7 linked regions of the Homo sapiens genome follow. The protein of the gene in region 4 purifies or fractionates together with the protein of the main gene of each other region. This does not show direct contact. Each region holds a gene or a part of one and is shown on either strand. Other genes may lie near its edges. The genes, in order: ADARB1, CLUAP1, BRF1, TCF20, IFT80, SLC39A10 and RAI1.

Evidence for each region.
Region 1: the proteins of TCF20 (region 4) and ADARB1 purify together in Homo sapiens (affinity purification with mass spectrometry; one large-scale study listed by BioGRID and IntAct). This does not show direct contact.
Region 2: the proteins of TCF20 (region 4) and CLUAP1 purify together in Homo sapiens (affinity purification with mass spectrometry, with the first as the bait; one large-scale study listed by BioGRID). This does not show direct contact.
Region 3: the proteins of TCF20 (region 4) and BRF1 purify together in Homo sapiens (affinity purification with mass spectrometry; one large-scale study listed by BioGRID and IntAct). This does not show direct contact.
Region 5: the proteins of TCF20 (region 4) and IFT80 purify together in Homo sapiens (affinity purification with mass spectrometry, with the first as the bait; one large-scale study listed by BioGRID). This does not show direct contact.
Region 6: the proteins of TCF20 (region 4) and SLC39A10 purify together in Homo sapiens (affinity purification with mass spectrometry; one large-scale study listed by BioGRID and IntAct). This does not show direct contact.
Region 7: the proteins of TCF20 (region 4) and RAI1 purify together in Homo sapiens (affinity purification with mass spectrometry; one large-scale study listed by BioGRID and IntAct). This does not show direct contact.

The regions. Positions count from the first base shown.
Region 1 is NC_000021.9:45,220,768-45,224,737, reverse strand, and holds part of ADARB1 (double-stranded RNA-specific editase 1), read right to left. Parts: intron 3,903-3,970; coding exon 3,724-3,902; intron 2,721-3,723; coding exon 2,541-2,720; 3' UTR 1-2,540. UniProt on the Homo sapiens protein: Catalyzes the hydrolytic deamination of adenosine to inosine in double-stranded RNA (dsRNA) referred to as A-to-I RNA editing.
Region 2 is NC_000016.10:3,499,498-3,504,017, reverse strand, and holds the start of CLUAP1 (clusterin-associated protein 1), read right to left. Parts: upstream 3,015-4,520; 5' UTR 2,951-3,014; coding exon 2,929-2,950; exon of another isoform or gene 1,934-2,928; intron 1-1,933. UniProt on the Homo sapiens protein: Required for cilia biogenesis. Appears to function within the multiple intraflagellar transport complex B (IFT-B). Key regulator of hedgehog signaling.
Region 3 is NC_000014.9:105,294,361-105,298,330, forward strand, and holds part of BRF1 (transcription factor IIIB 90 kDa subunit), read right to left. Parts: intron 1-3,970.
Region 4 is NC_000022.11:42,214,839-42,218,808, forward strand, and holds part of TCF20 (transcription factor 20), read right to left. Parts: intron 504-3,970; 5' UTR 468-503; coding exon 1-467. UniProt on the Homo sapiens protein: Transcriptional activator that binds to the regulatory region of MMP3 and thereby controls stromelysin expression. It stimulates the activity of various transcriptional activators such as JUN, SP1, PAX6 and ETS1, suggesting a function as a coactivator.
Region 5 is NC_000003.12:160,259,856-160,263,225, forward strand, and holds part of IFT80 (intraflagellar transport protein 80 homolog), read right to left. Parts: intron 1-3,370.
Region 6 is NC_000002.12:195,677,432-195,681,401, reverse strand, and holds part of SLC39A10 (zinc transporter ZIP10 precursor), read right to left. Parts: intron 1,371-3,970; coding exon of another isoform or gene 1,360-1,370; coding exon 352-1,359; intron 1-351. UniProt on the Homo sapiens protein: Zinc-influx transporter. When associated with SLC39A6, the heterodimer formed by SLC39A10 and SLC39A6 mediates cellular zinc uptake to trigger cells to undergo epithelial-to-mesenchymal transition (EMT).
Region 7 is NC_000017.11:17,789,297-17,793,266, reverse strand, and holds part of RAI1 (retinoic acid-induced protein 1), read right to left. Parts: intron 335-3,970; 5' UTR 319-334; coding exon 1-318. UniProt on the Homo sapiens protein: Transcriptional regulator of the circadian clock components: CLOCK, BMAL1, BMAL2, PER1/3, CRY1/2, NR1D1/2 and RORA/C. Positively regulates the transcriptional activity of CLOCK a core component of the circadian clock.

The sequences.
Region 1 (3,970 bases), on a different chromosome or scaffold from region 4:
CAGCCGCCCCGCCCAGGGCTCCCCGAAACCAGTTCCTTCCTACAGCCGCCCCCTGCCCCGGCCCAGGGCTCCCGGAACCCAGTTCCCCCTGACAGCCACCCCGCCCAGGGCTCCCTGAACCCAACTCCTCCTCACAGCCGCCCCCCAGTAGCCCCCTGCCCAGGGCACCCCGAACCCAGTTCCCCCCAACAGCCGCCCCGCCCAGGGCTCCCCGAACCCAGTTCCTCCCCACAGCTGCCCCACCCAGGGCTCCCAGAACCCAGTTGCCTTGGCTGCCTTCCTCCTGCCTGGACGGCTTGGGATAGGGTGCCCTGTGCCTGTCCTCAAGGCCGCACGAGTCCACCCCGGAAAGGTGCCACCTCACATGGTCTCAAGGTAGCTGCTCAGGCCCCACAAGGTGAGGCACTCACTTATTTGGGGTGGTACAGGGAGCAATCATGCTGACTTTAGCTATTACCTGACAGAAGGGAAAAGCCAGACATACCGGGTAGTTTTGTATGTATATGGAATATATTAACACTAAACTTGGTAACCAAAATCCACATATTTTTAAAAACGAAGTCCATCTCCCAATCCCCATTAGAAAAAAATACAATTTATCAAGACAATAAAAATGCACAGACTTACAAGGTGTTTTTTCTAGAGTGTGCAAGAGCCTGCTTGGGGGAAAGCCAGCGACAACAGACCCCTCTCCTTCTGCAGGTGCAGAACCCCAGCGCGATCTGCCTGAACAAAACCCCACTGTGGTGACGGAGCGGCAGAGACGCCTGCTGTGACTGCTTCAGGGAGACAACTACCCTCTTCGGTGGAGGAGGAGGCTGCTGTGGGGCAGATGTTCTAGCCGCTGAACCCGGTCATGTCCCCAACAATGAGCCCTAAGCAGCACCCCTTCCTGCCGTGCTGCGACGAGATCTGTGTGGACACACGTGGATGGGGCTCCTGACATCAGGAGGCACACCCCCCGCCGAAGCCACGGTGTTTCAGTTTTGGGGTCTGAGCTCCCAGCGTCCGGTGGGAGGATGACGCCCCTCTGCCCCTGCTCTGGTTTCCTAGGCTCATCACGGACACACAGGTGCCAACACCCTGGATTTCGCTGTGGCAGGTGTATGCTGTGGGGTAAGGTCTGCACCAATCTCTCCCCATGGCCCCAGGAGACCCACCTGAACACCCTCTAGAGCCTTGGAGCTGGGCACTGCACTGGCAGGCAGAGCACTTCTCTCAGCTCCTCTTTCATCCTGAGCGGAGGCAACAAGGCACCTGGTGCAAATCTCTGAGCTTGGTGGAGGTGGTCCACACAGGGCCCTCGCCCGCCGCGCTCCTGACCTCCCGGGCTGACTCCCTCTGTCGTGGGGCCGTCCCGTGCACGCTGGGCGCTGGGCAGCCCTGAGCTCCCGTCAGGACTGTCAATGTCTGGCCTACACTACGCCAGCAGCACGTGGTCTCACCAGCTCTCACTTGGATGCTTTTTATTTTTCAAACATGTCTTTGATAAAGCTGGAAACAATAATTTAAAACTATGGCATTTTCCAAGAATGAGTATCTACTGAAATCATTCTACTTCCATCCTGTGAAGGCCTTCGGGCGGTCACCCACATCCATTCGATTCAGAGGAAGGAACAGAGGGAACTTAGGCCATGTATTGTGCAGTAGCCCTCGTGATTCCTTCTAGTCCATAAAAGTTAAATATCCTTTAAAAAACCTGAATGAATGGCCAGCCTGGGATTACTGGCCATGTATTATCTGTGATTACTTAGAAGTAAACTGAGAAAAGTTTTCCATGATCTGATCCTACAAGGAGTACAGAAGCTTCTAGAGGAGGCTGAGGGCTACAGGGGCCTGGGTCACGCCTCTGCAGGACACACAGTCACTGCTGCGGGACCCCATGTGCATGACAGGGCCACGCTACACCATGCTGGGAGTCTGCTCCTCAGGGAGAGACTGTTACAACCTAGTGTGTGGAACTACCCAGGGAGGTACCTACGGAGAAAAGAGACCTAAGTTTAGACAGACGTGTGGCGATTTCCTTTAGGCTACTATTTCCTACCTCTATTTTCCCACCCTCCTCCATATATAGATGCTTTTTTGCAATTAAAATAATGTGGCATAAAAGTGACCTGACACAATTACTTCCTATTTTATAAACCACATTCCTAGCTCTGAATAAATTATTTATTCAAGAATTTCACACAAAGTAATTTCTATTTTCCTAAACTTAAGGAAGCCCTACTCAGTAGAACTCAATTTCTAAACGTAAACCGAGATTGAAAGCAGTCACTGGACGGTTCAGAAGGGGAAATGCTGCGGCAGAGAGATGCCAGGCGGCGATGCTGGGCCCTGACGCACCCCATCCCCTCCCCACACTGCGCACCTGCCCCAGGTCTGATGTGAGATGCTGGGGACAACCGTGGACACCTGGTGGTCCCCCGTGTCCCCCTACTCCCTCCCCAAGGTATGCACCTGCCCCCAGTTCAGATGTGAGGTTCTGGAGGATGACGCTGGATGCCCACAGCCCCCTGCACCCCCCATCATGTCTGCCCGGGTCAGGGCGTGAGTGAGAACTGGTCCTGCTCGGTGGGCTTCTCCACCCAGGCCCCCAGCCCCGCCTTGATGAAGGCTGTGAACAGACGCGCCTTGGCGGCCTGGTACTCCTTTGCCGCCAGCTTGGACTCATGGTACACGTTGGGCTTGGTAATCTTGGAGCGTAGTAAGTGGGAGGGAACCTGTGAAGGGATAAAAAAACAAATGCAACTGTTGACGCTGTAACAGATGAAAACAACACCTAATAAGATACCAAAACATGGCCTTCAGAACTGCATTGGCTTCTGGGGGGAAAGCAACCCAGAGGAAGGCGCCTTCTGCCAAGGGAACGGCTTCACACAGAACAAGGTGCGGCGTCTCCTAAGGGCTGAGTTATTGCCAAGTTCCAGTCTTGCTGGTCAAACAGGCAGCTACAGACCCCCGAGTTCTGAAGACATGCTTCTGGGAAACCACCAATAGTGGATTCACGTTTCATTTTTAACTCTAAGAAGCACCACGGATGTTATGTGTGTCATCACCCTGATGACCTCGGAGGCCTTCCCTCATGCGGCCAGTAACTCCTTCTGTGTGGACCTTGGACTTGTGGCAGCTGGCCTGGGTGCTGCCCCTGGTGAACAGGACCCTCCCGGGCACTGTCCCTTCTGGCTATACCTCCCATGCCAGTGCACAATGCTGGTCTCAGAATAAACAGATGCCATCTACTTGACTGAAGAATACACACAAACTAGTAATACCCTGACTTACTATATAAAGTTTTATTCTGGGGAAAAAAGGGCCCCACAGCTAATTCAAAAGGTTTAAAAACTCCACTGGAGGGTTATCACAATCCAAGCAATTTTTATGTTGCTGAGAAGGAGGGGACAGCAGGGTGACTGGCCCTGCGTTTTGCATAATGACTTTCAATATCTGAGAGTAAGAGACGTTTCCACCACACACAGTGGCCTGGCAGTGGGTGTTACCCTGCAGCAGGGAGGAAAAGAGCTGCCTTTGAGATGGCATTAAGGTTTCAGGGACGTAGCCACACTTCTAAGCTAAAACAATCTGAAGGAAGAATCATTCCAAGTGATCGTTTTCGGAAGCTGTGCATGATGACATGATGAAACAACTTAAGGAACAGTAGGTGTGAGGACAGACAAGCTATTGGGGAGGTGGAGCCGGCGCATTGCGGTGAGGGCGCCTCAGTACCTTGCCGTGCACACGCATCCAGCGACAGTACAACGCGTGCTTACACAGGCGGGACGCGCGGCCCAGCTCATCCTTCCCAGTCGTGGCGTTGATGACCTCAATAGCGGAGTCGCCTACCGTCCAGTTGACACTGAAGTTGGGGGCCTTCCCTGGCTGCCGTGCTTCTGCATTGCTGATGCCTGAAACGGAAGACACAGGAAGGTGGTGTGAAGCCCGCTTTCACCCCCAGGGAGGGAGCAGCCACGGG
Region 2 (4,520 bases), on a different chromosome or scaffold from region 4:
ACATTTGTTGAGTTCCCATATGTACCAAGATCTACATTCAGTGTGCTTCCTGGTTATTTAAGGTCTGTCTGCACTCTTCTTGAAGATCCATGTTCAAAATGGTCCATCAATGTTCACAAATAACCTACCTAGGTACTGCAAGTCAGGTCAGACTTCGCAAGACAATGAAACAGAAAGTGTGAGCACAGGAAACAGCAAAGTCACAAAGGGACTCTGTAACTGTTTTCTGGGAAATGTGAATACAGAGATTAAAAAAAAAATTAACTGGGTGTGGTGGTGCATGCCTGTGGTCTCAGCTATTCAGCAGGCTGAGGTGGGACGATCACCTGGGCCCAGGAGGTTGCAGTAAGCTCAGATCATGTGACTGCACTCCAGCCTGGGTGACAGAGTGAGACCCTGTCTCAAAAACAAAAACAAAAAAGGCCAGGCGCGGGTGGTTCACGCCTGTAATCTCAGCACTTTGGGAGCCGAGGAGGGTAGATCACCTGAGGTCAGGAGTTCAAGACCAGCCTGACCAAAATGGTGAAACCCCACCTCTACTAAAAATACAAAAGTTGCCGGGCACAGTGGCTCACGCCTGTAATCCCAGCACTCTGGGAGGCCGAGGCGAGTGGATCACAAGGTCAGGAGATTGAGACCATCCTGGCTAACACGGTGAAACCCCGTCTCTACTAAAAATACAAAAAAATTAGCCAGGTGTGGTGGCGGGCACCTGTAGTCCCAGCTACTAGGAGGCTGAGGCAGGAGAATGGCGTGAACCCAGGAGGCGGAGCTTGCAGTGAGCCGAGATCGCGTCACTGCACTCCAGCCTGGGTGACAGAGCGAGACTCCATCTCAAAAAAAGAAAAGAATAAAATAAAAATAAAAATACAAAAGTTAGGTGAGTGTGGTGGCGGGCGCCTATAATTCCAGTTACTGGGGAGGCTGGGGCAGGAGAATTGCTGGGAGGCAGAGGTTGCAGTGAGCTAAGATCACACCACTGCACTCCAGCCTGGGAGACAGAGCAAGACTGTCTCAAAAAAAGAACAGAAAAGAAAGCAGCAGCCTTTCCTTCACACAGTAAGGCACTGCCTAAATACTCCTGACCACTAGGTACTAGTCAAGTTCTGTTAATGCTGCGGTGTTATTGTCAAAATAGACACTAATTTGAGTAAGATCCTTACCATACACTGCACAACTGCAGAGCATTAATTTAAGATCAAAATATTCCGAAATCTCCGTGTGTGCGCTCCCCAACAAAACCCCATTCTACGTCCCCCGGCAGGGTGCTGGCCTCTCTAAAAACTATGTGGGAGGAGACAGTCATCCTGCATGATGTGTGGCCACCAAAAACCTTCAAACCCCAGAGGGCAGGATTCACACTCTGGTGCTCAGTGGCTGCATGGATAAAAGGTAATGCGTCTTCCTAGATATTTTTACATTGTAGAAAAGAGCAATTCATAACCAAAAGGAGTAATCTCTAATGCTAAAATTTCAGGCACCAACAATTGGACGAGAAAACTGGCTTTAAGAGACCCCTCGGATCACACCAAATTGGCAATCATCATCTACCTTTCCTTTTTTTTTTTTTTTTTTAAAGACAGTCTCACTCTGTCGGCCAGGGTGGAGCGCAGTGGTGCCATCTTGGCTCACTGCAACCTCTGCCTCCCGGAATCAAGCAATTCTCCTGCCTCAGCTTCCCAAGTACCTGGGACTACAGACGCGCGCCACCATGCCCGGCTAATTTTTTGAATTTTTAGCAGCGGCAGGGTTTCGCCATGTTAGCTAGGCTAGTCTAGAACTCCTGAAATTAAGTGATCCGCCTGCCTCGGTCTTCCAAAGGGCTGGGATTACAGGCGTGACCCACTGCGCCCAGCCGTAACCAACACTCTTAGCCTCGTTCTTCCACTTCCCCACCCTCTTAGCAAAGGAATTCGAGCTCCCTTCTCCTTACCAGCCCTGCAGAAAGGATGCAGATGGAGTTCAGGATGTCTGGAGTTCAGGCAACCTGAATTCAAGCCCCAGTGCCACCTCCTACCGCCTGTATCACCTGCCCAAGTTACCTGACCTCTCTGTGCCCGTTTCCTCACTACCAAATACAGGGGGCACAGAGTTGTTCAGATGATTAAAATGAAATGCGCATAACACAGAGCGGGCCCTGGCAGATCGTTAAAACTCAAAAAATGTTAGCCGCAATGATTATCACCCAGCCTCCTCTCCTCGGTTTCGTTGCTGGTTGTTTTTTTTTTGGTTTGTTTTTTGTTTTTTGAGATGTTGTTTCGCTCTTGTTGCCTAGGCTGGAGTGCAATGGCCCGATCTCGGCTCACCGCAACCTCCAAAGCGATTCTCCTGCTTCAGACTCCCGAGTAGCTGGGATTACAGGCGCCCGCCACCACCCCCGGCTAATTTTGTAATTTTAGTAGAGACGGGGTTTCTCCATGTTGGTCAGGCTGGTCTCGAACTCCCGACCTCAGGTGATTCGCCCGCCTCGGCCTCCCAAAGTGTTGGGCTTACGGGCGTGAGCCACCGCGCCCGGCCTGCTGTTCGGTTTTCTAAGCGCTAAGCTAACCCAACTCAAAAAATAGTCTCTAAACTCTCCATGCATTTTCCAATACGGTAGCGAAGAGCGGCATGCAGCTACACAAACAGAAATAAATTACACTTAAAAATTCAGTTATTCATCTGCACTAGCCACATTTCAAGCGTTCTGAGCCACACGCGGCCAGTGGCAGATAGAGAACTTTCCATCCTCGCTAGAAATGGCCGAAGAAGGGCCTGGGACGCTCGGCCGGGTTGCAGCCGCGGGTCAGGCGGTCCCTGAGGCGCAGAGGCCCGAAAGGAGCCTCCGGCAGCGCAAGCCTCAGGGATCGCCTACACAGGGGACCCGGCGGGCGGGAGCCCTGAATCTCTGGAAGACCCGCAGGTCACAGGGGCGCGGGGCTGCCTTACTGCGGAGGTCGCGGAAAGACATAACGCTCAGGTCCCCAGGAGCCCAGGGTCGCAACTGCTCGCCCCTCAGCGATCACAGGCCCAGCGCTCGACGATCTCTATGGCAACCAATGGACCCTTGGACGGCGCACGGTCAGGGACAAACAAAAAGCGAAGCGAAGACGCGGCGGCACGTGCATACGCACGGGGAGAGCGGGCCGGCAGAGAGCGCTCCTGAGACGCCGAGGGCAGAGGGCGTGGCGATACCGGCGTCTATGAGGGCTGCAAGCTTCCCAGCTTCTGGGCGTCTGTTTACACGCTTTGCGGACGTTTCGCGCTGGGTGACAGGTTCTGAGTACCTACTACGTGCTTGATATTGCGCTAGGCGCTTTCCATATTGCTTATTTCCCCCTCATTTCTATAAAGAATGCACGATGCTTGGCTGGGCGCGGGGGCTCACGCCTACAATCCCAGCACTTTGGGATGCCGAGGCGGGCGGATCACTTGAGGTCAGGAGTTCGAGACCAGCCTGGCCAACATGGCGAAACCCCGTCTCTACCAAAAAATACAAAAATTTGCCAAGCGTGGTGGCGCACACCTGTAATCCCAGCTACTCGGGAGGCTGAGGCAGAAGAATTACTTGAACCCGGCAGGCAGAGGTTGCAGTGAGCCGAGATCGCGCCACTGCCCTTCGGCCTGGCGACAGAGCGAGACTCTGTCTCAAAAAAAAAAAAAAAAAAAAAATGCACTATACTCAGGAAGCCCGCCTTCCCCCGTCCGAGGCACAGCGCGCTCCTCGTCGGAATCTGGTTGCCGAGCGGAGGACGGGATCACTGTGGGCGCCCAGAGGCAGGCCAGGCCTCGGTCTCGCGCACGCGCAGACGGCTCGGGCTGCACAACAGGCCGGAAAGGGGCCCTGAGCCGCTCGCGCCGCGCGGGTCCCGGCAGCCCTAGCCTCTGCATGGGGGCGCGAGGAGACGGCAGGAAGGGGCGGCCTCCACGTGTGAAATGGGGAGATGCCCCGCCAGGCGTGGCACAGCAGCCGGGTTTTGTAAGGTAGCTTGAGCAGGAACAAGGAAACAGCGTAGTGCACAAAGCGATTGGTTGGCATCAGGTTATTTCAGATGCATTTCTTTGGGTTAAAGCAGAGGGGGCTTCCTTATGCCAGCCTAGGTGGACAGGGCCCCTTTTGTTGGTTGCAGTGAATCTTCTGTGTTTTGGCAGACTGGCCTGTCTCTAAGTTCGCATTGATTACGTGGCACCTTGCACTAGCGATTCCATTCTGGTTTGGTCTGGTCCGTTGGTACCTTGTGCAGGAGCTCGCTCCAAAACAATGGCCTCCCATAAATGTTGCTTCACGTGTTATTAAGAAAAACAAAAGATAAGCCACAGTCTAGAAGAAAATATGCACAAAACACATATCTGATAAAGAGACGTGTATCCAGAATGTATCAAGAACTCTCAACACTCAATAATGAGAAACAGTCTAATTAGAGAATGGAGAAAACATTTTAAAAGCTACTTCACAAAAGAAGATATATGGATGGCTAATATGCAAATGAAGAGATGATCAAGGCTATTATTAGAGAAGTGCATATTAAAACCACAATGAG
Region 3 (3,970 bases), on a different chromosome or scaffold from region 4:
TTCCAGCTCTGCACTGCTCCACACCACCATCCTCCCCCGGCAGGGCACAGTGAGGGCAGTGCGCTGTCACCAGGCCCGGATGCACTTAACACTGTGCCTGCCCGGGAAACCCTGCGTCTGCTGCCATGACAACTTGCTTTCATTACTGTTGTTATCATCCCAACAGACATCCAAGTCTTGGCAACTGTGACACAGCTGCAAACTCTGTGCCCAGCAGTCCTAGGAAGATACCCAGGGAGTATGAGCATGGAAGACGATGGGGAGGGAAGAGCAGGAGAGAAAACTCAATGAAGCCCAAGCCAGTTCTTAGAAAAGATCAAAAACACGGATCAACTTCTAGCAAGAGAGACAAAGGGAAAAAAAGACACAAAACACCAACATCTGAAAGGAAAAAGGAGGCCACTGTGGACCCCGCAGATATCAAAAGGATAAGGGAATGCTTCGAACAACTCTCTGGGCAAATTCAACAACTAGGTCAAGTGGACCAATTCCTCAACACAAGCGGCTAATTCACCCCAGGTGAAACACAGCATCTTAAATATAACTAGAACCTCAGTGATGAAAGAAGCCGAAACCACAGTGCAGAATCTTCTGAGAAAGAAAGCTTTGGGACCAGATGGCTACGCTGGTGAATTCTACCAAACATTTCAGAAAGAAAGAACACCAACTCTACATAATGTCTTCCAGAAAATAGAAGAGGAAACGTTTCCCAACCCATTCCATAAGGAGCAGAACCCTGATACCCAAGACAAGGACGTTACAGGAAAAACTACAGGCCAATATCCCACGCAAGCATCAGCAGGAACCCTCAACAGAACATCCGGCGCTGAGCAAAGCAGCTCATGCCGCTAATCCCAGCACTCTGGGAGGCCAAGGTGGGAGGATGCCTTGAGGTCAGAAGTTCGAGACCAGCCTGAGCAGCAAAGCAAGACCACATCTCTACAAAAAAAAAAAAAAAAAAAAAAAAATTGGCGTTGGCTCACACCTGTCATCCTAGAACTTTGAGAGGCCAAGACGGGAGAATTACTTGAGCCCAGGAGTTCCAGACGAGCCTGGTCAACATGGCAAAACCCCATCTCTACAAGAAAAATACAAAAATTAGCTGGGTATAGTAGGGCGCACCTGTAGTACCAGCAACTCAGGAGGCTGAGCTGGGAGGGTCACTGGAGCCCAGGGGGTTACGACTGCAGTAAGCCATGACCACTGCACTCCAGCCAGGGTGACTGAGCAAGACCCTAGACCCTGTCTCCCCAACCAAAAAAAAATTTTTTTAATTAGCTGGGCATGGTAGTGCATGCCCGTAGTCCTAGCTACTCTGGAGTCTCAGGTGGAAGGATCTCTTGAACCCAGAAGTTCCAGGCTGCAGTGACCTGTGATCACACCACTGCACTCCAGTCTGGGCAACAGTGAGACTTTGTCCCAGAAAAAAAAAAAAAAGCTGGGTGCGGTGGCTCACGCCTGTAATCCCAGAACTTTCAGGGGCCAAGGCAGGTGTATCACTTGAGATTAGAAGTTCAAGACCAGCCTCACCAACATGGTGAAACCCCATCTCTACTACAAATACAAAAACCAGCCGGGTATGGTAGTGGGCTCCTATGTAATCCCAGCTACTCAGGAGGCTGAGGCAGGAGAATCGCTTGAACCCAGGAGGGGGAGGTTGCAGTGAGCCCAGATTGCGCCACTGCACTCCAGCCTGGGCAACAGAGCGACACTCTATCTCAAAAAAAAAAAAAAAAAAAAAACTCAAGGAGTGTATTAAAAACTCTTAGGGGCCAGGTGTGGTGGCTCACACCTGTAATCCCAGCACTTTGGGAGGCCAAGGCGGGTGGATCGCCTGGCCAACATGGCAAAACCCCATCTCTACTAAAAATACAAAAACTGCGGCCGGGTGCAACAGCTCACACCTGTAATCCCAGGACTTTGGGAGGCCGAGGTGGGCGGATCACGAGGTCAGGAGATTGAGACCATCCATGTAACCCCGCCTCTGCTAAAAATACAAAAAATTAGCCGGGCGTGGTGCTGGGCGCCTGTAATCCCAGCTACTTGGGAGGCTCAGGCAGGAGAATGGCATGAACCTGGGAGGCAGAGCTTACAGTGAGCCGAGATTGTGCCACTGGACTCCAGCCTGGGTGACAGAGCAAGACGCCGTCTCAAAAAAAAAAACAAAAAACTTAGCTGGGTGCGGTGGCGGGTGCCTGTGATCCCAGCTACTTGGGAGGCTGAGGCAGGAGAATCTCTTGAACCTGGGAGGCGGAGATTGCAGTGAGCCAAGATGGTGCCACTGCACTCCAGCCTGGGCAACAAGAGCAAGACACCAGCTCAAAAAAAAAGAAAAAAAAAAAAAAACCTCTTAGAACAAGTAAGTTTAGCAAAGCCATAGGAAACAGGACAACACACAGAAATCAACCATATTTATATAAACAAGCAATGAAGAGTTGAAAACTAAATTAAAAAAATTCCACTTATAATAACTCCTAATAGAGCTTAGGTACACATCTAAAAAATGTCCAGAGGGCCAGGCACGGCAGCTCATGCCTATAATTCCAGCACTTTGAGAGGCTGAAGTGGGGGGGGATCACTTGAGGTCAGGAGTTCGAGACCAGCCTGGCCAACATGGTGAAACCCTGTCTCTACTAAAAATACAAAAATTAGCCAGGCGTGGTGGTGGGCTCCTGTAATCACAGCTACTTGGGAGGCTGAGGCACGAGAATCGCTTGAACCCAAGAGGCAGAGGTTGCAGTGAGCCGAGGTTGCACCACTGCACTCCAGCCTGAGTGACAGAGCGAGACTCCATCTCAAAAAAAAAGTCCAGAAGCTGTATGCTGAAAACTACCCAACACTGACAGACTATATCAAAGAAAATCTAAATGAATGCAAACATACACTGTGTTCCATGGACTACAAGATTCAACATAGAAAAAATGTCAGCTGGGCACAGTGGCTCCCACCTGTAATCCCAGCACTTTGGGAGGCCGAAGAGGGCGGATCACGAGGTCAGGAGTTCGAGACCAGCCTGGCCAATGTGGTGAAACCCCGTCTCTACTAAAAAATATACAAAAATTAGCTGGGTGTGGTGGCGTGTGCCTGCAGTCCCAGCTACTCAGAAGGCTGAGGCAGCAGAATCACTTGAACTCGGGAGGCGGAGGGTGCAGTGAGCTCAGATCGCGCCACTGCACTTCAGCGTGGGTGACAGGGTGAGACTCTGTCTCAAAAAAAGAGAAAGAAAGAAAAAATGTCAGCTCTCCCTAAATATATCAAGAGGTTTAATGCAATTCCAATGAAAACCCCACCAGGACTTTTGTACAGGTTGAACATCCCAAATCCAAAAATCTGAGATTATAAATGCTCCAAAACGGCCCGGTGCAGTGGCTCACGCTGGTAAACCCAGCACTTTGGGAGGCTGAGGCAGGTGGATCACGAGGTCAGGAGATCGAAACCATCCCGGCTAACACGGTGAAACCCCGTCTCTACTAAAAATACAAAAAATTAGCCGGGCGTGGTGGCGGTCGCCTGTAGTCCCAGCTACTTGGGAGGCTGAGGCAGGAGAATGGCGTGAAGCCAGGAGGCGGAGCTTGCAGTGAGCCGAGATAGTGCCACTGCACTCCAGCATGGGCAGCAAAGCGAGACTCCGTCTCAAGAAAAAAATAAAATAAAAAATAAATGCTCCAAAACATGAAACTTTTTGAGTATCAACACGATGCTCAAAGGAAATGCTCACTGGAGCATCTCAGATTTCAGATTTTTCGATTAGGGATGCTTAACCAGTAATTATAATGCAGATATTCCAAAATCAGAAAACTCTGGTATCCAAAACACTTCTGGTCCCAAGCATTTCAGGTAAGAATATGTGACCTGCAGAGATGCACAAACTTACTCTAAAATTAAAAAGAGAAAGGGAAATTAATAGCCACAACAACTTTGAAAAGGAAGAACAAAGGTTGAGGGACTCACAATATCTGATTTCAGGACA
Region 4 (3,970 bases):
TAATCCTGCTGATAATGTGACACACCGCCAAGGCCAGAGTGCTGTGCTTGAAACTGGCCCACATGACCCTCACTCCCATACTGATTGCCAAAGCTGCTCCCCTGGGGGGGTCCATAGCTCTGCACAGGCCCAGAAGGCCTTCGCTGAGGAGGCTGTGGGGTTCCTGTAGTCACGGGGTCTTTGTTGCCTGCCATGTAGTAAAAATCTCCAGCCTCTTTCCTGAAACCCTGGTAACCTTGATGGCCAGAGGTCTCGCTAGCCATCGCTGCCGCAGCAGCTGCTGCTCCTCGTCGTCCACCACCACTGCCACTGCCACTGCTGCCACTACTGCCACCTGTACCTCCAAAATTCTGGAACATCTGGGCCTGACGAGGGCTGAACTCTTCTAGCCGGGATGAGCCGTGTACCTCCTGTGGGTAGCTTTGCTGGTTTCCGTGGTAACTGCTTTGCTCCCGAAAGGACTGCATACTGTTCAGCAGCACAGCAGCAGGCCAACAGCCCTCCTAGAAATAGAAGAAAGAAAAACATTAGACACGCATCTCCTTGGTACAAATAAAATCAAGTCTAGATGATGGAGGGAATAAAGATGAATCAGAGGCCCAGATGAAGCTGACTGGTTTGAATTTCTATTTTTTTTTTTTGGTTTTTTGAGACAAGAGTCTCACTCTGTCACCCAGGCTGGAGTGCAATTGCACGATCTCAGCTCAATGCAACTTCTGCCTGCAGGGTTCAAGCAATTCTCTTGCCTCAGCCTCCCGAGTAGCTGGGACTACAGGCGCATGGCCACCAGGCTCGGCTAATTTTTTGTATTTTTAGTAGAGACAGGGTTTCACTGTGCTGGCCAGGCTGGTCTCGAACTCCTGACCTCGTGATCCGCCCACCTCGGCCTCCCAAAGTGCTGGAATTACAGGCATGAGCCACCACGCCTGACCTTGAATTTCATCTTTTATATTTTATCCTATCCACTTCTGAAAATGCACATATGCAGAGAAATGGCCTAAAGAGTGAGGCAAGAATCTGTAGTAGAATGAAAAGCAGCACTCTGAGTGCATACAAACCCAATACAGCAAAAACATGTATGTCTCATATATCTAATAATGCCTTATTAGACAAATGAGCCCCCAAACTCAACCAGATTAAAATATGGGGCTGTGTTATTACTGTCAATGAAAAACAGCAATTTTTCAATAAGCCTCCCAGTTATGCGGGGGAGGGGGTGTGGGGTAAGAAAAACCAAATCCTTTTTTTTTTTTTTTTTTTTTTTTTTTTGAGACAAGGTCTCACTCTTGCCCAGGCTGGAGTGTGCAGGGGCACAGTCGTAGTTCACTGCAGCATCAAACACCTGGCTTCAAATGATCCTCCTGCCTCGGCCTCTCAAAGTTTTGGGACTACAGGCATAAGCCACTACTTTCATTTCTCTGCTTTCATGTATTAGGGTGATCACTGAACTGCGGGTTTTAACACTGGCTGCTGATCGCCACTCCCCAACACTGAGAAACAGACCTGGCCAGAGAACTGCAGCCAATTCCTTATGTCCAAGTGCAAATTTTTGCAGCTTTACTATAATTGCCAACTACCTGTGATGACTGGTGACTCCAGGACACTCAGCCCATATGGGTTCCACACAAACTTTGGAGTCAACCTCTTCTTGGCATATGACTGTGTCTACAGCACCCCTCTCTCCACCACTCTCCTTCAATTCCCAGGTACAAAGGGCTAGACTTAAGCCAGTGAATAGCAGTGACTATTCTTCCAGATTATTTTGGGAGGTTTCCAAGAAGTTCCAGCACCTTTACCCGCCATGTGGTATTTGTATTTGCCAGTTTTTTAAATTCACAGTTATTACTGGCCATTACTATGAAAGAATTAGAAGCAATCATCTTGGAGGACAGCAAAAAACAGAGAGGAAAATAGGAATTCATCAAGCCTAGGACCCAGACTCTTTCAAAGTTATCTGACTGAGCCACCACTTTGTATTACCTATTATAATCCCTCTTAATCAATCAAGCTGATTTTTTCCCCTTTCACCTGGGCCTGTCTCCTCAGAGTCAGAGATGAAAGGGACAAGGCCAAATTGCTCCAAGTGACTTTAGAACCAATTACTTAAAAAAACAAGTTCCAAAATACATATAGGGTAAAGTGAGGTGTAATAGACAGTTTAGTTTAGTTACAATGGTTTATGAAGCTAGTTTCCTAGTTCCCCTGAAGGGGAGCTGAAAATGGAGTTGCCTGCAGGAAAGTCAACAACCTTTTTAAAGGTAAGTCAGATTTATCCTCTCCAATCCCTGGAGTGGCTCCCACCTCATTCTTTGGGAAACTGGTCTCAAAGGCCCCTGCTCCCACCCCCTTGACCTCTCTGAGCTCCTCCCCTATCACTCTCTGCTCTAGCCCCACAGTTGCCTTGTTCCTGGAACAGGCCTACCACATATCTACATAGGAACTCTGTTCTCACCTGCACGTTCTTCTCCCAGAGCCAGATAGCTTGCTCTCCTTCCAGTCTTTGGGCAAGTGTCACTCATTCCCTGGTCATTCTAGTAAAAACAGCCAGCTCCACACCTTTTCCCTGGCTGTAACTCCCTCCCCTGTTTTATCCCCTGCCTGGCCCCATACTTACTCCAAACAGACACATATATGCTACTTGTTTACTGTCTGTCTCTCCTCTGACTAAAATGTAAACTCCTTAAAGGGCAGAAACTGACTGTTCCTTGCTGTAATCCTCACGTCATCACACCGGAGTCTGTGTGAATGATTAAATGGTGTAAGAACTAGGCCTTAGAGAACTAGGCTAGAACTCACATATTCAGAGATGGTGCTGTGGGAGTGACATGAGAGAATTATAGAAAGTGAAAATAGAATATGATCAACCTAAAAGCAGAGCTGGAGGATGCTGAAGACCTTGCCTGTAAAATCCCATGAGTCCGGTTCTAAGGGAAAGACCCAGCTTGAGTCCACATGAGAACTGAGGAAAGACTTCAGAAAGTAAATATTGATTAGAGCAGAAGATGGCCAGTAACCCCAAATTCTAAAAGCTTGACCCATATCTTGAAATATCGTAAGTCTAAAACAGCTAGACAAGGGTCTACTTCCTTAAGCTTGATTATATAGTCATGTGACCCAAAACAATCGCTAAACATTCATGTGCAAATAATGTCAGAATCTAAAGGAAACTTCTCATCCTATTCAAAATGCCTCTGTTGCTTTGTTCCAGTGAATCTGCAGGGCAGTAGGTAATAGCTATTCAAATGGTGATGATGCTGCTTGACACTGTTCCAGCACTTCACATACACTAACTCATTTAATCCTCACAACACTAGCACGCTCCTTTTACAGATGAGGAAACAGAAGCAGAGTTCACAAAGCTCCTAGGCAGCAGGGCTGGGGGCAGGACATGTTTTTAACATTACATTGCCCAGAGGGTCTTCCACATGGTCAGTAAAAAATACCAGTTGTCCTGTCAGTTTGGCCTTGAAAGTGGGTAGCCACCCACAATAAATCTGTCCCTTCACTGCCACCCTCTTATAAGGACCTCCATACTGTTCCAGCTGGCTCTTCACCCGCTCCCCATCATTCTTAGAACTATCAAGAGCAATTCTGTCTACATGAGTATTAATTTTTTCCCCTTGTGATGTGCTCCTGCTCTACTCCTCAGTGCCAGTGGCCTTCTCTAGATAAAACAAGGCTGAATGGGGGCTAAATTGAACAAAAACATTAAAGCTAGCAGTTTAAACTAATGAAAAGCCTTCTCAAGAGATATTCTCTATAAAAAGCTATGTTACATGTTGTTTAATTAATCCTTCTGGAAATAAAATCAGGCTTCTGAAGATCTGAGTGTATAAACAATGTTGCCACTTGCTCCATATTCTTCCTAAATAGGAGCCACCAAGAGCTAAAGGCCACTTTAAACATCAGGGTATCAGGCCTGAGGCTGCCCTATCTCCAGACAGGGAAAACAGATACAGGAAGGACTCCT
Region 5 (3,370 bases), on a different chromosome or scaffold from region 4:
TTTACAGGAAATAAATCCAAACCCCTGAGTCTGGGCCAAAAGTGAATAGGTTTTCACCTCTGTTTAGGGGAGTTGAATGGAATAAGTAGTATTAAAGCAGAATGAAGTAATCTCAGTCTGCTTGAACAGATTTAGCTTAAGTAAGTGAGGGGTTAATTTAACTTTAATAGGACTTCATGCCTCTTTTATGCTGGAGGTTAAAGAAATTAAGTATTTTTTTTAATTCCAATATCCCATACCTGAATTGCTGTGAAGCAATTTGTAAATATTTTGGCTCACCTTTATTTAAAATAACAATGCCATATACTTATGTATAATACATAAAATAGATGAATTAATAAACGAATTCCTCTCACTCATAGAAGACAAATGTCTGTGCTAAGATGCAAGTGACAGCTCATTGAAAAGCCAAGCAGATGTTAGATTATTTGAAAGACTCATTTTTTCAATCAGGGCAAAATCTGATATTTTTTAAACGGCAAAGCACTCATTTCTATGTCTAACAAAACACTTATAGAGAAGACGAAACTTGATGGATGCTTTGGGTTTCTTCCAGCCTTAAATTGACTTACATACATTTCTCAAATCAATCACAATAAAACCATACATTGATAATATACTGAACAACTGCTGCTCTGTTGCAAGTAAATTGATGATATCTGTATTAGTTATTTGTTATAATACAAATCAGGGTGTCAGTGGATAGCTGTCCTACTGAAAATAAATGTTTCACTTTCGCTTTGGCATTGATCTAGTTTTAAAAAGTGTTCTACAGATAATTTAGTTCGTGGATTAGAATATTTTTAATAGTAGGTTTTAGATAAGAATGTTCTCTGATAGTTGTCAAGTGATTTCTACACTAAAATCCATCTTTTGCTAGTATAGGGACTGCCAATATTATCTGGCACTCCTTATTCTACTCGCTAGCCAATTCTTAGTCACCTATAAGCAATTTCAAAATCATACCAAAAGGCTCTCCATCCTCTAACACATTTCTCTTTCTCTTCCTCTCAGCTGAAGATCAGCTTCCTACTTTACAGAGAATATAGTGGCCATGAGGTATGAATTCACTTTATTTTCCTTCCTTGCATTCACGAACTTACCTGTATCTACACCCATCATTATCTTTCTCTTCCGTCTCAGGCCAACCTCTTAACATATGTCTCTGATTCCATTTTCTTTGACTCCTCTAGGACATCTGACTTCAATTATTCCTCACACATTAAATGTCCTTCTTTTCACTGACTCGCTCTCATCATCCTTGGCTCTCTATGCTGTCTTCTCCCTGCAAGCTACCATCCTTCTTCTTCTCATTCCTGACTCTCATTCTCTTCCCTGTCCACTATAATTCTGATCCTGTGACACTTTAAGAACTTTGCACTAAAACCACCTTCGGCTGTTTTCAGTCCTTATCTTATATACCTTCTCTGTATGATTCAATTTTTCATTCAACAAATATTTAGTGCTTAGTATATATCAAGGATTGTCTGAGGTACAAGGATTCACCAGTGAACAAAAAGATAGAAATCACTGTCTTCATAGAGAGATAATAAACAAAGATAAAAATGGAAAGGGCAGATAATAAACAAAACAAAAAATATATCTAGTATGCCAGAAGCGGTAAAGATTTTGAAAATAGAGAAGGGAGATAGTGAGCACCAGGAATAGAATAGGAGGTTGCAATGTCATCAGTTTACTTCACGGGAGGCCAAGGCAAGAGGATTGCTTGAGCCCAGGAGTTCAAGACCAGCCTGGGCAACATAGTGAGACCCTGTCTATACAAAAAAATAAAAAATTTAGCTGGGCTTGGTGGCATTCATCTCTAGTCCCATCTACTTAGAGGGCTCAGGTGAAAGGATCGCTTGAGTCTGGCTATGTTGAGGCCACAGTAAGCTGTCATTGTGCCACTGCACTCCAGCCTGGGCAACAAAGTGAGACCCTGTCTCAAAAAAAAAAAAAAAAAGGGGGACCTGAAGGAGATGAGTGAGACCCATGTGTATATCTGGAGAAGGGCATGGTGACATGCAGAAGTACACGGACGGCCCTGGAATAAGAGCCTTCTCTGGACCTTGCTGACCACTGCTCTTTGAAAAATCTCTCAAGACTGTATAATACCATTCTCTTCTGGCTCCTGCTCTCCTTTCTAAATGCTGCTTCTTTCTTTCTCTCTCTTTTTTCCCTATATTCTGCTCCCTAGACAATGTTGGAGAAGAAATATAATTTCTCCTCAACGCTTGTAAGTTTATTGATGGGAGAGATAGGTGAAAAGAGAAAAACAAGCCGGTTCAATAATATGTGCAGTGTACATCACAGCAGGAGAAATCTCAATGAAAGGTAACTCAAAACAGTGTCTTGGAACTCTGGGTTACATAGCATTTTCAACAAAGAACAATAAATTTTAAAGATGTGACAAGACTGTTTTTAGAGAAGTGAAAACAGTTTTAGGCTTCCAGAGATTGGAAACCATGGGAAAAAAATATATGGGAAGAAACTAATCAGGTGAGGTTTGTTCTATTTTTGAGACAGGGTCTTGCTCTGTCACCCAGGCTGGTGTGTGGTGGCCCAAACATGGCTCACCGCAGCCTCAACCTCCTGCTGGGACCACAGGTGTATGCTACCACACCTGGCTAATTTTTTAAATTTTTTTAGAGACAAGGTCTCACTTTGTTACCCAGGCTGGTCCTGAACTCTTGGGCTTGGCTTACATGATCCTCCTGCCTTGGTCTCCCAAAGTGCTGAGATTACAGGGGTGAGCTACCACGCCCAGCCACGGAGTAAGGTTTTTTGGTAGATTGCTCTGGAGTCGTCCCTGAGCTGACAAGAGTTGTCTCTAGTAAAGGAGAATTTATATTTTGTCTTTAGGAGGAAAAGGGGGAGAATAGAGCTCTTCCATTTGCTGCAGCTTGTCTTTAGCTCAAAAATATAAGTGTCAAAGAGACATATTTTGGGGTGTCATATTTTGGTTTCCTTCAACAACCTCTTAACTGTTAATATTCACCAGGGTCCAACCATAGCTTTCTAACACTTTCCCTAAGAAATATCAATTCATATAGCTTCAACTATACCTAGATGGTCAAGGCAATAAATTTAGTTTTCTAGCCCTTATTTCTCCCTTGTCAATGTCCTTTTGTGTTCATATTTATATTTCTAATTGCCTGCTAGATACCTCCTTCTGGACACCTGATAGACACTCTAATCACATACAAAATGGTATATTTTCATGTATTCAAACTCAAAGGTCCAAAATGTGTATATTCTTATGTATTCTTTAGATTAATGGCATTCCCATCTATCAGCTGCCCACACTAGAAATGTTGAAGTCATTCTCAAATGCCCTGCCTTACCTCACCACCTCTCCTCCCACCCCCAG
Region 6 (3,970 bases), on a different chromosome or scaffold from region 4:
GGCGCCCGCCACCATGCCCCGCTAATTTTTTGTATTTTTAGTAGAGACGGGGTTTCACCATGTTAGCCAGGATGGTCTCAATCTCCCGACCTCATGATCTACCCGCCTCGGCCTCCCAAAGTGCTGGGATTACAGGTGTGAGCCACCGCGCCCGGATACTTAAAAATCTTTACACTGATTCTGATTCCTTAATGTATTCTGTTCATGAACATTACCTGATATTTCATAGGTAAACATATGGAAATAAGTTTAAATATGATTAATACTCCACTGTTACTTATCCTGTTTTTAAAATGCACCACAATTATGTGAGAATTACGAAGCAGCTATCGGACATCTTTTTATACTTACTTCATGATGATGGTCATCTTCATTTAGATCTTTTCTCAAAGAAATTATTGCATTATTTTTAACATGTGGTGCTTCTCTCTTTCTAGTATGTCGAAGTTCACCTTCATTATCAGGATCAAGATCTTGGTGTCCACGACCAGGATCATGACCATTACGTTCTGGAAGATGTACATGAGAATGACCTGGGTTATGTACACGATCAGGTTTGTGGACCCGATTATGCTCATACTGTTCACCCTGATCATGGTTAGGGGGAAAACCTGGTGTAATAACCTCAGAATTTTCATTACTTTTCCTCCCTTTTTTCTTCCTCTTTCCTTTCGGTAGTTTAACATCAGATTGTTCCTGGGTTTTATTGGTCTCTGTTGAAGGTTCATTGCTAGGCTCCCCACGCTCACTGGGAGTAATGGAATCATTATGAAAATGGTGAGTGTTGTTATGATCAAGATGATGATGCAAACGATGGTGATGACGTAGGCGGTGATTATGGTCATGCATATGTTTATCATCAGATTTTACAGACACTTCAACTGTCTCTTTCTCTGGATCACATTTATGGTTTCTTTTTGTGGATACACTGGTCACAGTTTGATTTTCTGAATTTAAATGATTATGGGAATGCTGGTGGTTATGTGAGTGAAAATGCTTTCCCTCTTGAACTGCCAAAATATCTAAATGAGAAACATGATCGTGGCCAAGATCCTCATGATTAATCTCAACTACTTTTCTCTCTCCAAGGCCCAAGTTTGTTAAAAGTTTCTCCAAACCAAAAAAGGATAATCTTCCATTTTCACCATAACGCTCAAAAAGTTTTTCAATATAGTATTTTTTTTCATTTTCAGCAGCTTGCTTTGAAAATTTGCTTGGCTCCAATTCTGTCATTCCACGATGCTGTCTGTGAAGCGCTTCAGGGCCATGGTCATGTTCTTCATGGCAATGGTTGCAATGATGAAAAATAAATGTCAGCAAACAAATGAGGCAAAATTTTGTGTGCATATGTACCTTCATTTCTATTTTTCCTAAAGAGATTTAAAGAGAGAGACAAGTATTAGTTTCTACCTAGACACATTCAAAACAATCTAATTCTCTGGAAGTTGCCAATCCACTAAAAAAAGTTTTACTCCATTTCCTTCATGATAAAATATGTTAAGAACCAGAGAAAAGTGAAACTGTCATTATTCACAAATGGTAGAATTAATTATGCAGCATGCCTTAAAGAATCTTTAAGAATAAGTTAGTTTAGTACAGTTACTGAATATAAGGACAGTAATAAATTATATTCCTATATATCAGCAATAATTAGAAAATAAAACTCAAAAATAGTAACATTTACAACAGTAGCAAATAGCTAGGAATGTATCTAACCAAAGACATACAAGAACTTTACATAGAAAAGAGAGAAATTATTGAGAGAAATATTATTGACAGAAAATTACTGAGAGAAATAAAAGACCTAAATAAACGGATGGCTATATCATGTTATGACTGGATAAGCTATGTATCCAATACAACCCCAGTCAAAATCTCAGAATTTTGTGAAAACTGATTAACTGTTTTTAATATTGATGTGGAAATAGAAAGGGCCAAGAACGGCTAAGATGTATTCCTTGAGGAACAAAATTGAAGCATTTACTCTATGAATTATCAAAGATGCTGTGGTATTTGGTGCAATAACAAACAGACTAAAGGAACAGAAGACAAAAGCTAAAAACCGGAAAGGATGGTCTTTTCCTTGGTGCTTGGTCAATTAGGTTTCCACACAAAAGAAAATAATAAATAAAATCTGACCCTTACCTCACACATCATTACAAAAATCAATTGCTAATAGCTCCTGAACATAAATCTGAAACAAGAAATGCTAAAATGATAAAGTGTCCAGAACTGTCCAATTCAATGGTAGCCACCACTAGTCACATACGGGTACTTAAATGAACTAAAATTAAATTTAAAATGCAGCCTCTCAGTCACCCTGACTATGTTTTAATTGCTCAACAGCCACATGTAGCAAATGGCTAGTATGTTGGACAACGTAGACGCAGAACATGTCCATCATTATAGAAAGTTCTATTGGACAAGCATACTTCAAGAATCTAGAAATATAATAAGAGCCAATTATGTAATTCTGAAGTTTTCCAGAATAGATGAAACTAATTTCATACTATTCTATTTAACCCATTATATCCAAAATATTATAATTTCAACATCTAATCAATATAAAAATTATTAAAATATTTTACATTCTTTTTAATACTATGTCTTTGAAATCTGTCATGTATTTTACACTTACAGCACATCCTAATTCAGTCTAACTGTATTTCAAGTGCTCAACAGACGTGTGGCTACTGGCTACTGTACTGGAAAGCGCAGATCTTGAAGATTTGGGAGACTAATTTTAAGACCTTCGAGATAGAACACAAAATTGATAATATATTACACTGAAATTAAGAATTTATGTTTCATCAAGAGACATCCAAAAAAAAAAAAAAAACCTAACTAAAAAGGCAGGCTGCAGACTGGGAGAAGACTACCACAATGTATACTCAAAAATATATAAGGAACTTCTATAAATCAATATGAAAATTACAATAAGACGACCCAATGAAAAAATGAGTAGGTAACTTGAACAAGCACTTCATAACAGCAGCCAAACTCCTAAAAAGCAAATGAAAATATGTTCAGCTCAGAAGTCTTCAGGAAACCAAATTAAAATCACAATTAGATACCACTATATACCCCATGAAAATAACTGAAATATAAAATACTGCCAATATCAAAAGTAGGCAAGAATATATAGAGTTAAATGGAACTTGTGTACTGACAGTAGTATTAGAGATTGTATCTTCTGAAAAACTGTTTGGCAAGATCTGCCAGAAGCTGAATGTAAGCCTATGTACTTACACAGCAATTTTAATCTGGGGTATATGCCCAACAGAAATCCATGTACATGAATACCAACATGAATATTCACGTAATCATTATTCATCACAGTCAAAACTGAAAAAAGGCTGGGTGTGGTGACTCACACCTGTAATTCCAGCACTTTGGGAGGCCAAGGCAGGCAGATCACCTGAGGTCAGGAGTTTAAGACAGGCCTAGCAAACATGGTAAAACCATTTTTACTAAAAGTACAAAAATTAGCCAGGCGTGGTGGCATGTGCCTGTAAGCCCAGCTACTTGGGAGGCTGACACAGGAGAATCACTCGAACCCAGGAGGCAGAGGTTGCAATGAGCCCTGATCGTGCCACTGCACTCCAGCATGGGCAACAGAGACAGACTCTGGTCAAAAAAAAAAAAAAAAAAATCTGATAAAAGCCTAAATGTTAATCAACAACAAAATGATAAATGAAACAGAAAAATCTATCACACAGGAATAAAAATGAAATTACAGCTTCATGCATAGATGAATTTCACAAATATTGGGAAAAAAATGACAAACACCAAAGAAAGCAGTATAATTCTTATATAAAGGTAAAAAGGAATAAAACTAAACTTTGTGGATTTTTTTTTGTTTGTTTTTGAGACAGGATGTCACTGTGACACCCAGGCTAGAGTACAGTGGCGCAATCATAGCTCACTGGAGCCTTAAACTTCCAGGCACAAGAGATCTTCCCACCTTAGC
Region 7 (3,970 bases), on a different chromosome or scaffold from region 4:
GCTGCTGTCCTGGACGCCGTAGCCAGGGAAAGCCGGCCTCCCCTGCAGGCCTTGCTGTGTGGGCAGGGCCTTGCTGCCTCGGTGGTACTTGTCGGCGGCCACCGCGGCTGCAGTGCCAGAGGGCGTGCCAGCGCCACCCTCATAGCTCGGGTAAGGCTGCGGGTTATAATAGTCCTTGGCGAGCAGCCGCTGCCGGTCGCAGCTTAGCCCGGCCTGACTCGGCTGCCTGTAATTCTCTAGGCGTGATGTTTCCTGCGAGGTCTGCTGGTAGTTCTGTTGTTTGCCATGGAAACCACACCTTTCTCGAAAAGACTGCATGACTCGGGCTGGTTATCTGTGAAAAGAAAAAGGAAGGGAGGGAGGGAGGGAAGGAGGGAGGGGAGGATGGGCAGGGAGGGGGCAGAGGATGAGCGATTCAGACGGGCCACTTCCTTTTGCCTCAGAAAGCACCCTCCCACCCACCTCCCCACCCTGCCTGCTCCCCCGCGCAGCTCTTAATAGTCCCCCCTTCGCCTGAGCCTCCCCACCAGCTGTGCGCATATTGACAACTTCTGTGTCAGGGAGGTGTGCTCTGTAATTCCCGCTCCCACATCGCCTGCAGCTGAGTCTTGCCAAGGACGGCCACTGATGCGGGAGGCAAAACCGGCTGCCCAGCGCCAGGTCACTGGGGAGCTACCCGCCCCCCCCCCGCCCATTGCCAGCTCCTCCCCAATGTCCCCCACCCATCACTCCCAGCCCTTCCTGACAGCTCAAAAGCATTTAGCAGAGCAATTCCCGCTCCCTCATCCCCTGGGGCCTGCTGGATCCTGTAATTTAGTCCCTTCGCGACCGTGTTCAAGCATGACCCAGCCATGCTGGGGACTGAGGAGGGTCTGCCCCTGTCCCCACGCACATGCGTGCACACAAGCATATGTATGCTCACACACACACGCGCGCACACACACACACACGCATGCACACACACACCTCCTCTATCACTGCCACGCCATCTGGAATCTGTCTGTTCCTTCTAGCAGACATCGATTAGGGGCTGCCAAGCCACTGTAGACATAAAATGTCCCCTCCTCTGACTCCCAGGAACGCAAGACGGCAGCACCTGCCTCCTGTTTTTGATATCATACGTGCATAAACAGATTACGTGGCCCAGAGTGAGGGAGTGCATACTAATGGGAGTAGAGATGCAGTCCCAGGGCCACGGCCACGGAAGGGCACAGCCCAGCCCCACCCACATGGGGCGACACAGCCCTGTCCCCTCCTGGCCAGTTCCTCCCCACCTCAGCAGGTGAGGGCTGGGGCAGGCAACACTCAAGAGCCCATCTGGTTATGATTTTAGGGGATGGGGCTCAGGCAGGGGTCTAACCTGCCCCTGCCTGCAGAGCAGAATCCTGGGTCAGGAAAGGACCCAGGGTGGGTTGCGGGAGCCTCTCAGAGCAGAGCATCTGACAGCCCAGCATCCAGGGTAAAGGTTCCTCCAGCTGACTCGCTGGCCTGGCCAACCAGAAGACCCCTCAAAGAGGGATGGAAGAAAGAGGAATGCCCCAGGTTTTGGAGGAAGTGCATGGAGGGGCTGGCCATTGGCCGAGTCCCAGAGGGTTTGGGATTTACCCAGAACCATGCTGGCCCGGAGGCAGGAAGAAAGGGGCTCAGCTCGGCCTGTGTGGCCCAGGCCCCCAGGAGGGGATAGGGGACTTTCCAGTGCTGGTTCCCAAATGCTCCAAAAGGAAGGGGTGGCTTGCCTCAGGCTACAAAGATTCCAGGTTGTTGAAGGGGTCAGGAAGGGACAAAGAGAGGGGGAGAGGGGCACAGAGAGGGAGAGGCACGCAGAGTCGGGGAGGGGCACAGGGAAGAGGCAGAAAGGTGGGGAGTGGGGGAGAGCTGGGGGTGCTGCTCCATTTACCCTTCTTCCTTGGCCCGGACCCCACCACAAGTGCCTTCCTCATTTAGTGTCTGGGGATGGATGCAGGGAAGGCGACAGAGGGCCTCCATCTGCCTGAGAGCAGGGCAAGCCCAGGGCAGCCAGATGGCCCCCAGAAGCCCGTCAGCCCAGTCCTGGGACCACCTCTCCTGCTCTCTGGAGTCAGCTTGCCCTGGCCCACAAATGCAGGAGAGTCAGCCCAGTGTGGGGGCCGGCCACTTTCCCACGAGGCGAGCCCCTGCCCACCGGCTTATCAAAGCCGCTTTCCCTCTGCTCCAGCTCCTCTCCCTGGATTTGTCGCAGGCATCCCTAACAAGCAGCGTGCCCACCCTTCTGACCCACTTCAATCCTACCCCTGGCAGCTTGGATAAAACATTACAGGAGGTTCCTGCTGCGACGCGCCAACCCAGAGGAGCTGGGGACGGCACTTGGTTCTGGTCTGGCAGCTCCCTGCCAGGTGGGCAGCCTCACGCTCCTGCCCTGGCCAGACTGCCACAGGGCAGCCCAGGCGGGCCTGTGCCCAGGCCGAGGGCACAGCGCCCGCTCCCTGCCCTCCCCAGGCGCATGTTTATGAGCCCAGAATGTGCAAACCCAGGACCACTCTGAAGGCTGCGCCTCGTATATCTGCACAAATTACATTTCGGCTTTTATTAGTCCCAGATCACTCTCATTTCCTGCTGAGTGTCCTGTGGATATCATTAACATTTCTACGGCTTTATTTTTTATTTTTTTTCACATTCTCCAAAATGCATTACCAGAAACATTATTTAAAGAGAGACAGAGACAGTGAGGGGGTGCTATTACCAGTACCCCCTCCCTGCCTGTCCGTCTGCATTCCTCCCTCCCTGTTTAATTGGTCCAGCTGCTGTGTCTTTTAATTTAGCCGAGCTGTATTACAGGCAGGTTTCCCAATACACACGAGCAGCTGGATGCGGTGAAAGCATCTATTGCTAAGAAAAGACAGTTCAATTAAAACACGAGAAGCCCAGTGCTGATGGAGAATGCAGGCAAAAATGCTCGCCCCAACACCACCCTGGAACCCAAGGCAAAGGGAGGGATGGGAACAAAGGCACAGGCCGCCTCTCAGTGCCAGCCAGGTCCCACTGCCAGCTCTGCTGGGAGAAAAGGGGGCACTGCCTCTTTAAGGGCTGCCTCAGGCCTGCTATGGGCTCTGTTGTTATTAATTATTATGATTATGATTACTTTTCAAGAGCACTAGGACAGGACACAGAAGGCGAGGCAGGCAGCAGGGCTGGGCTGGGTTGGGTTGGGCTGGGCAGGCCTCAGGAGAGGAGGGGGCAGAAAGAGCACCCCCCTCCCTGGCCCCGGCAGAACGATGGTGACCTTTGAACCTGGGGGCAGGGAAGAAGTGGCCTAGCAGGCAGATTGTGGGTTTGGCCTGTGGCTTGGGCTGGAGGGAGAAGGGGTGGTGAGAGGGGACAAGGGAGGGCACCCCCCACCCACTGGGCTCACTCCTCATGGTCCAGCTCAACCACACTGCCCGGACGGTCCCCACTCATTCCCATCCATCCGTTTCTCCCCAACCTGCCTCTCCTCTCAGACACTTGGTCCAGGCCTTATCTCCAAAGTTCTTGCTGAAACTAGAAGGCAGGAGGAGCGGAGTCTAGTGCATCCTCTAAGCACCAGATACATGAACACTTCACCCTTAGAATCAGATCCTGGAACTTAGTCTTCTCAGCGCTGGACAGAGGAGGCAGGCCAGGCACAGCAGGGAGCATGAGCTGGAATCACATAGCACCCAGGGCATCAGGATTCCCCTTGACACAGCAATGGGTGTCCTCACTCCAAGCCATGAACATAGTGGGGGCACAACGAAACCCCAGCTACCCTACGGTGCAAGGCCAGCGGCTCTCACAGGCCTTCGGCAGTGTGGCACACACCTGGGGCACAGCCCTTCTTTTAGGCAAAGACCTCAGCCCTTTCCCTCCAGAAATCTATAGGACTGCTGAGGCGGGAGCAAGGCGGCTGCAGAACACCTACTCTGTGCGGCTTTCTTGAACAACGGTTTGATTAATCTCTCCTCCCCCTTTACAG